Homo sapiens: one gene and its partner. The protein of the gene in region 2 purifies or fractionates together with the protein of the main gene of each other region. This does not show direct contact. Each region holds a gene or a part of one and is shown on either strand. Other genes may lie near its edges.

Evidence for each region. The genes of interacting proteins can lie anywhere in the genome.
Region 1: the proteins of KIRREL2 (region 2) and KLHL13 purify together in Homo sapiens (affinity purification with mass spectrometry; one large-scale study listed by BioGRID and IntAct). This does not show direct contact.

The regions. Positions count from the first base shown.
Region 1 is NC_000023.11:118,110,200-118,114,238, reverse strand, and holds part of KLHL13 (kelch-like protein 13), read left to right. Parts: intron 1-4,039. UniProt on the Homo sapiens protein: Substrate-specific adapter of a BCR (BTB-CUL3-RBX1) E3 ubiquitin-protein ligase complex required for mitotic progression and cytokinesis.
Region 2 is NC_000019.10:35,859,701-35,863,739, forward strand, and holds part of KIRREL2 (kin of IRRE-like protein 2 isoform c precursor), read left to right. Parts: intron 1-596; coding exon 597-702; intron 703-818; coding exon 819-967; intron 968-1,208; coding exon 1,209-1,336; intron 1,337-1,421; coding exon 1,422-1,554; intron 1,555-1,840; coding exon 1,841-1,941; intron 1,942-2,104; coding exon 2,105-2,324; intron 2,325-2,792; coding exon 2,793-2,897; intron 2,898-3,214; exon of another isoform or gene 3,215-3,226; coding exon 3,227-3,336; intron 3,337-4,039. UniProt on the Homo sapiens protein: May regulate basal insulin secretion.

The sequences.
Region 1 (4,039 bases), on a different chromosome or scaffold from region 2:
GCTTCTTCATGTAATTTGACTTGCAGTAGTGAAATGAGACTGACCAATTTTCAAATTGTTTGATTTTTATTGATGTTTGATAAACCACTAAAACCTCTTGAAAATATTTTTTTCTTAAATCCACTGATTGAAACCGATGTATTTTTATTGCTATGAAATAATACAACAAATTTCCAGGAATTATTTCAGAAAATGTGGAAAGACTGTAGAGAAATGAATAGCCCTAGAGAAAATATCTCAAAATTATAAAAATGGCTTTCTCAAGTTACTGATATTCATAACAATCAGGTTTTTATGTATCATTCATTCATTTACTAATTCATTTTACAAAATCTACTGGGTACTTGTGTGCCAAGGCCCTGTGTTAGGCACAATGATAAACCTTATAAGGCATGATCTTTGCTCTTGTGGAGTATCACAGTGCTTATATTCTACCAGAGAATACAGACAATAAACGAGCAAACAAATGAAGAAGATCCTTATAGACTGTAGTAAGAGCAATGAAAATAAGTAGGGGAATATGATACAGATAGCTAGGAAGGGCCTACTTTAGTGTGGGAAGTCAGAAAAGGCCTTTCAGAGAAGATGATTGAGCAGAGACCTGAAAGAGAAGAGAGAATAGGCCTACCTTGTCAGGATCTGGGAGAACATTCCCGAGATAACATTCTTGCAGAGAGAAGAGTAAGAGCCAAGGCCTTGAGGGGGGAAAAAGAGACTTGGCGTTTTTGAAGAGCAGAAAGCAAGCCAGCATGGCGGATTAAAGAAGATGTTACAGAGCCTAGAAGCAGCTCAATAACCGATAAATAGGACTTGGAGGTCCTGAGAAAGAATTTGGGTTTGATTCTCAGAACAATAGGAAGCCACTGAAGAGTCTTTCCTGGGGAAGGTCATTGGCTTAAAAAAATTATCCAGGGAAATTTAAAAAAAAATGTTTTGCAGAGGATAAATAGAATGTCTACTCATTCAGTCATTTATATTAATACCTGAGAATAAAAAAAACTCTATGATCAGTATGCTAAATAATCATGTAATTCGGTTCCTCTACTCTGTTTAGGTAAGGGGATGGGGGAATGGGAACCCTGAGGTGAGTATGTTAAAAGGCAGTTTACTTTCCACTGTCACATTGTGACTTGTGCTACAAGGTAAGTTGTCACCAACTTTATTAAAAATCAGATCATTGTTCAACTTAAGAATTTATTTTTCAAAGAATGATATCTTATTTTCTCATGGAAATATGTTTCCTTTGGAAGGTTGGAAATTTTATTTTGTATAAAGGAATAACCTAGGTTTTAGAAAGGGCCTTTGGAATTTTAAGAAGGGCTTATCATTTTCTTTTACCTGTTGCCTCTCCAACATTTTCAAATGGCCATACCTTTATTCCTTGAGAGATTAGGGTTACTGTGTTTCCTGAGGCTTAAATGAATTTATTGCCCTAAGCCCTTCCTTGAAAGCAATCCAGCTTTGAGGTCTAGTTGGTCCCAAATAGGAATGCAGATGATTATTGACATTCCATAGGAGTAAATCCTAATATTGTGGGGGAATAACCTGCAAAATAACCTTCATCAGTGCCTGCAGGGTCAACTTGATTTGATCCCAGCCTACTTTCCCATATGTCCTTATTATTCCCTTTCACAAATCTCTATTGGTTTAAACTGATTTTCCCCAGTTTGGAACTTTTGTGCTTAGCATTATTCCTGGCATAGAGTACGTGCACAGTGGGTGCTTGTCAAATGGATGCCATGCCTTTCTTTTTTGTCATTTCAAATTCCAGGTCCTATTACACTATTCCCCATTGAACTAGATCTCCCCCTCTGAAGGTGAACAGCAGTCACACACTTGCCCTGTTGTGTCATAATTATGCTTATTTGATGCCTGGCCATCTCCCCACTTGCCTCTGGCTTCATGAAGGCGACCTAGACCTCATCCGGTTTGCTCATTGTTGTATTCTGAGCACCCAGCACATGGTATGCACTTTATAAATAGTTATTGAATAATGAATAAATACTGTCTTGTGATGTTTCTCCTATTAATTTTTTGATGTTAGATCATTTAATACTGTTTTACTTTTCACGTGTTTGGTGTTCCGAAGTGGTTTCTGAGAGAGGTTGTAGAGCATACTTGTTAAGAGCTCAAGCTCTGGAGCTAGGCCACCTAGGTTTCAATTCCAGCTAGGAGACTTAATAGTTGTGAGACACTGGGTGAGTCAGTAAACCTCCCTGTACCTCAGTTATCTCATATGTAAAAAAGGGGTAATAGAACTTGCCTCTTATGGTACTTGCAAAGATTACATGAATTAGCTAGGCCCACTTTTTCTTTTCTCTTTTTCTTTTTCTTTTTTTTAGACGGAGTCTCGCTCTCTCACTCTATCGTTCAGGCTGGAGTGCAGTGGCATGATCCCGGCTCACTGCAACCTCCGCCTCCTGGGTTCAAGCGGTTCTCCTACCTCAGCCTCCCGAGTAGCTGGGACTACAGGTGCGTGCCACCACGCCAGGCTAGTTTTTTGTATTTTTAGTAGAGACAGGGTTTCACCATGTTAGCCAGGATGGTCTCGATCTTCTGACCTCGTGATCCACCTGCCTCGGCCTCCCAAAGTGTTGGGATTACAGGCGTGAGCCACTGCTCCCGGCCTAACTTTTTATTTTTAGTGGAGACAGGGTTTCACCATGTTGGCGAGGCTGGTTTCAAACTCTTGACCTCAGGTGATCCACCCACCTCGGGCTCCCAAAGTGCTGGGATTGCAGGCATGAACCACCTCCCCCGGCCTAGGCCCACAATTTGTTTGCAATTTTTAAATTTCTAAAGCTCTGAAAACTGAAAAAGATTTTATTTGGTAACTTAGATGCCAAAACTCATGTGGTGGCAAAACCTGACTTAAACTGACATAGGGTATTTATAGTCTTTATTCTACTTAATGTTGATCTTTATTTTGTTTTGCTATAGAATTACTAATATGTTTATGGGGTTGCACCATAGACCCTAATGGTGTATTACATAACATATGGTATATAAAGTATATTTCCTGTCTAAAGGTCTGGACATTTCTAAATTCAGAAACACATCTGGCACCAAGATTTTTCGATGAGATTGTACACCTTGCAGTAAACTGCTTAAATCAGGGCCTTGCACATAGTATGTTGTTGCTGTGGGTGGTGGAGATTAGGGAGGTAAATAAACTACTTTATCTTTCCCAATAGCTTGCTCATAATAGTTACCATGTAAATATATACTGATTTACTCATGCAATAACTGTAAATAGAGGACTGGCTGTGTGGTTCTCATGTCATAGGAAAATAGATATGGCAGGGTCATGTAATTGAAATGAGCCAAGACTCGTCTGTTAGTACTCTCATCTGGTACCATTCAGAGCAGTTTAGTTTTTGTTTTTCTGTTGTTATTTAAACCAACCTATGCTTCTTTAGCACAAGAGAGTCTTTTGTGGGGGTGGGGGTAAGAAATTCAGTTAAGAACTTATTTAATGTGATTAGACACTTATTTTTTTGCAGTTGTTGAACATTTATTGAACTGCTAATGTGTATAGAAATCTGTATTAAGAGCAAGAGAAGGCCGGGCATGGTGGCTCACGCCTGTAATACCAGCACTTAAGGAGGCCGAGGCGGGCGGATGATAAGGTTAGGAGATCGAGACCATCCTGACCAACATGGTGAAACCCTGTCTCTACTAAAAATACAAAAATGAGCTGGGCGTGGTGACATGTGCCTGTAATCCCAGCTACTTGGGAGGCTGAGGCAGGAGAATCGCTTGAGACAGGGAGTTGGAGGTTTCAGTGAGCCAAGATCGTGCCACTGCACTCCAGCCTGGTGACAGAGCGAGACTCAGTTTCAAAAAAAAAAAAAAAAAAAAGAAAAAGAAATAGAAAAGTAGAAAAGAGAAAGGTAGAAAACAAATGAGACATGATTCCTGACCTTCCTTAGCCCCAGCGCCCTGCATGGTTACATGGGGACATGAGTGTGCGTTACAATTCTTTATTTTCCTCTGTAAACTTGACATCATTAAGATTAAAAACATGCAAAGGAAAACC
Region 2 (4,039 bases):
TGTGGCCCTTGGGGAATGAGGAAACTGGAGCCTGGACTCCTGGATCTAAGATAGCAGGAGAGGGCTGGGTATGGTAGCTCACGCCTGTACTCACAGAACTTTGGGAGGTCGAGGCAGGCGGATCATCTAAGATCAGGAGTTCGAGACCAGTCTGGCTAACATGTCGAAACCCCGTCTCTACTAAAAATACAAAAATTTGCCGGGCGTGGTAGCACACACTTGTAATTCCAGCTACCTGGGAGGCTGAGGCAGGAGAATCACTTGTACCCGGGAGGCAGATGTTGCGGTGAGCCGAGATCATGCCACTCAGCAGCAGAGTGAGACTCCGAGCAGGAGAGGACAGACAGCTGGGGTCCCTGGGGAAAGAGAAAGCTGGGCCTTGACTCTCACATCGGGGAGACTAGGAGAGGGCAGAAGGCTGGCACATTGAGGTAACTGGGGAAATTGGGAACTGAAAGCCCAGACTCCTGGCTCAAAGGGAGAAGGGGATTAGGGGCCCAGACTCCTGGGATGGAGGAACCAGGGACTGGACACCTAGGCCAGTGACGGAGGTGTTCCTGGTCCTTGCCCATCTGACCATTGTCCCACCCTCACAGACCCCCCAGAGGTGACTCTGTCTGCTTCGCCACACACTGTGCAGGAGGGAGAGAAGGTCATTTTCCTGTGCCAGGCCACAGCCCAGCCTCCTGTCACAGGCTACAGGTGAGGACGAAGACCCACCTCTCCCCAGCCCCAAGAGTGAGCTTGGGAAGGGCTGGGACCTGAGTAGGTGTGCCAGAGAGGCCAGGACAACGTTAACAGCGCCACCATTTCCTCAGGTGGGCAAAAGGGGGCTCTCCGGTGCTCGGGGCCCGCGGGCCAAGGTTAGAGGTCGTGGCAGACGCCTCGTTCCTGACTGAGCCCGTGTCCTGCGAGGTCAGCAACGCCGTGGGTAGCGCCAACCGCAGTACTGCGCTGGATGTGCTGTGTGAGCTGGGGCCGGCCTGTGGGTGTGGTCAAAGGTGGCCGTGGCTTTCAGGGCTGTTGAGGGTCGGGGCCTGGAGGGGCGGGGCCGGGAGAGCGAGCGTGGGGTATTAGGAGGAGGAGAGTGTGGAGCTGGGGCATATTCTTGCGCCCTAGAGGGTGTGGTGTTTCTGTGGGGCTGGCTGATCCCAGGTCAGTGGCTGCATTCCGCCCCGGCCATGTGACCCCTAGTCTCTTTCGTCCAGTTGGGCCGATTCTGCAGGCAAAGCCGGAGCCCGTGTCCGTGGACGTGGGGGAAGACGCTTCCTTCAGCTGCGCCTGGCGCGGGAACCCGCTTCCACGGGTAACCTGGACCCGCCGCGGTGGCGCGCAGGTACAGCCCTAAATCTGAGGCGGTGGCTGGAGGGGGACCAGGCTTCCTTACAAATCCGGCTTCTGACGCCCCTTCCCTGTCGCAGGTGCTGGGCTCTGGAGCCACACTGCGTCTTCCGTCGGTGGGGCCCGAGGACGCAGGCGACTATGTGTGCAGAGCTGAGGCTGGGCTATCGGGCCTGCGGGGCGGCGCCGCGGAGGCTCGGCTGACTGTGAACGGTGAGAAGGCGGGGCTTCCTAGGGGACCTGGCCCGTCCTGGGATAGGGAGCGGACAGAGGGGGCAAGGGCTAATGCAGTGGGAGTGGCCTGGAAGGAGCTTTACACCCAGCGGGGGCTGGAGACCGGACCTATTGAAGGCGAGGCTTTTAGGAGAATCGGAGTTTGGAGGCGGCGTGGCCTGATTGATTGAGGTTAGCGGAGAGTGCGCTGGACAGACCCGGCTTTGTTACAGCCTTTGGGGAGGGCAAGACCTCTCCTCTGAGTGACCTACAGTCTCCATCCCAGCTCCCCCAGTAGTGACCGCCCTGCACTCTGCGCCTGCCTTCCTGAGGGGCCCTGCTCGCCTCCAGTGTCTGGTTTTCGCCTCTCCCGCCCCAGATGCCGTGGTAAGGAAATGTCACTCCTCCCGTGACCCATCCAGCCGTGATCCCTGACCTCCCACCTGGCCCCCCGAAACTACTGTGACCATTTCTGACTTCCCAGACATCCCTCCTGCTTCTTCCTCCCCTCCTCAGTCTCCTCCGTGTCCTCCCTCTTTTGTGCCCCCAGGTCTGGTCTTGGGATGAGGGCTTCCTGGAGGCGGGGTCGCAGGGCCGGTTCCTGGTGGAGACATTCCCTGCCCCAGAGAGCCGCGGGGGACTGGGTCCGGGCCTGATCTCTGTGCTACACATTTCGGGGACCCAGGAGTCTGACTTTAGCAGGAGCTTTAACTGCAGTGCCCGGAACCGGCTGGGCGAGGGAGGTGCCCAGGCCAGCCTGGGCCGTAGAGGTGAGACCCCAGCCCGAAGACCCCAAATCTGGAGAGTCTAAACCCCACAAACGCAGGGATCCCCCAGCCGAGGGCTGCAAAACCTCATACCCTCAAATGCAGAGGAGACCTCCAAACCTCGGGAGTCTCAAAACTGTGGGCTCATTGATTCCCAAGACACCCCTCAACCACAAATGCCTTCACATTCTGAATCCTAAACTGAGAGACTCCTCACACCTAGGGGCCCCAAAAAGGGAAACTCCAATGATTGCAAAGCAAATTGCAAAGTAAAGGACCCCTCAAATTCTAAGACTCCCTAAAGCCAGGGAGTTTAAACTCACTCTCAAACTTGGGGAACCCCAAATTCAAGGGCCTTTGAATCTTCAAATGTGCGACCTTTTGAACCCAGGAATCCCAAACTCAATCCCTGAGCCCCCGCTTCCTGGTTCCCCCTCAGCCTTCTCAGGATGTCCCCTCTGCTCCCTGCAGACTTGCTGCCCACTGTGCGGATAGTGGCCGGAGTGGCCGCTGCCACCACAACTCTCCTTATGGTCATCACTGGGGTGGCCCTCTGCTGCTGGCGCCACAGCAAGGGTTAGTGCCTGAGCCCCGCCCCGGCTCCCGAGGCCCCAGCCCCACACGCGCCCTGCCTGCCCAGTGACCTGACCTGGCCTTGGGCCTTGGCTCCAGTCCCATTTCCAGCTCTGCACAGGGCTTAGCTCTCCTTCACGTTCTGGTTCCCTCCTTAAGCCCTAACTAGGCCTTCCCAGGGTCACACTCCTCGGTGGGAATGATTCTTATTGGTTTCCAACAGCCCTACCCAATCAGCCTCATTGGTTCCCAGTCCTCTCTCTTCCCGCTTATTGGTCTGCACACATTGTGACCCCGCCCATCGCTTAACTCCACCGGTCGCTGTTTGTCAGCCTCAGCCTCTTTCTCCGAGCAAAAGAACCTGATGCGAATCCCTGGCAGCAGCGACGGCTCCAGTTCACGAGGTCCTGAAGAAGAGGAGACAGGCAGCCGCGAGGACCGGGTAGGATGCCAGGGTCCCCAGACCTGACTGTGCCTCCAGACCTAAATAATAGCCCAGTCCCAAGAGGGTCCCCAAATTCAAATAGGACTCTAAGGCCAGGCATGGTGCCTGACGTTGGTAATACCACTTTGGGAGGTGGAGACACAAGGATCACTTAAGGCCAGGAATTCAAAGCCAGCCTGGACAGCATAGCAGGACCCCATCTCTACAAAAATACAAACTAAAATAAAATAAAAAATGAACCGGGTATGGTGGCATACACCTATAGTCCCAGCTACTCAGGACACTGAGGTGGGAGGATCCCTTGAGCACAGGAGGTAAAGGCTGCAGTGAGCTATGATTGCACCATGCACTCCAGCCTGGGCTACAGAGCAAGACCCTGTCTCCATTTTTTTTTTTTTTTTTTATGTAGGAGGGCTCTAGTCTTTTTTTTTTTGGCAGAATTTCACTCTGTCACCCAGGCTGGAGTACAGTGCTGCGATCTCGGCTCACTGCAACCTCTGCCTCCCTGGTTCAAGTGATTCTCTTGCCTCAGCCTCCTGAGTAGCTGCGATTACAGGCGCCCACCACCACGCCTGACTGATTTTGTATTTTTAGTAGAGATTGGGTTTCACCATGTTGGCCAGGCTGGTCTCAAACTCCTGACCTCAGGTGATCCACCCGCCTCGACCTCCCAAAGTGCTAGGATTACAGGCATGAGCCT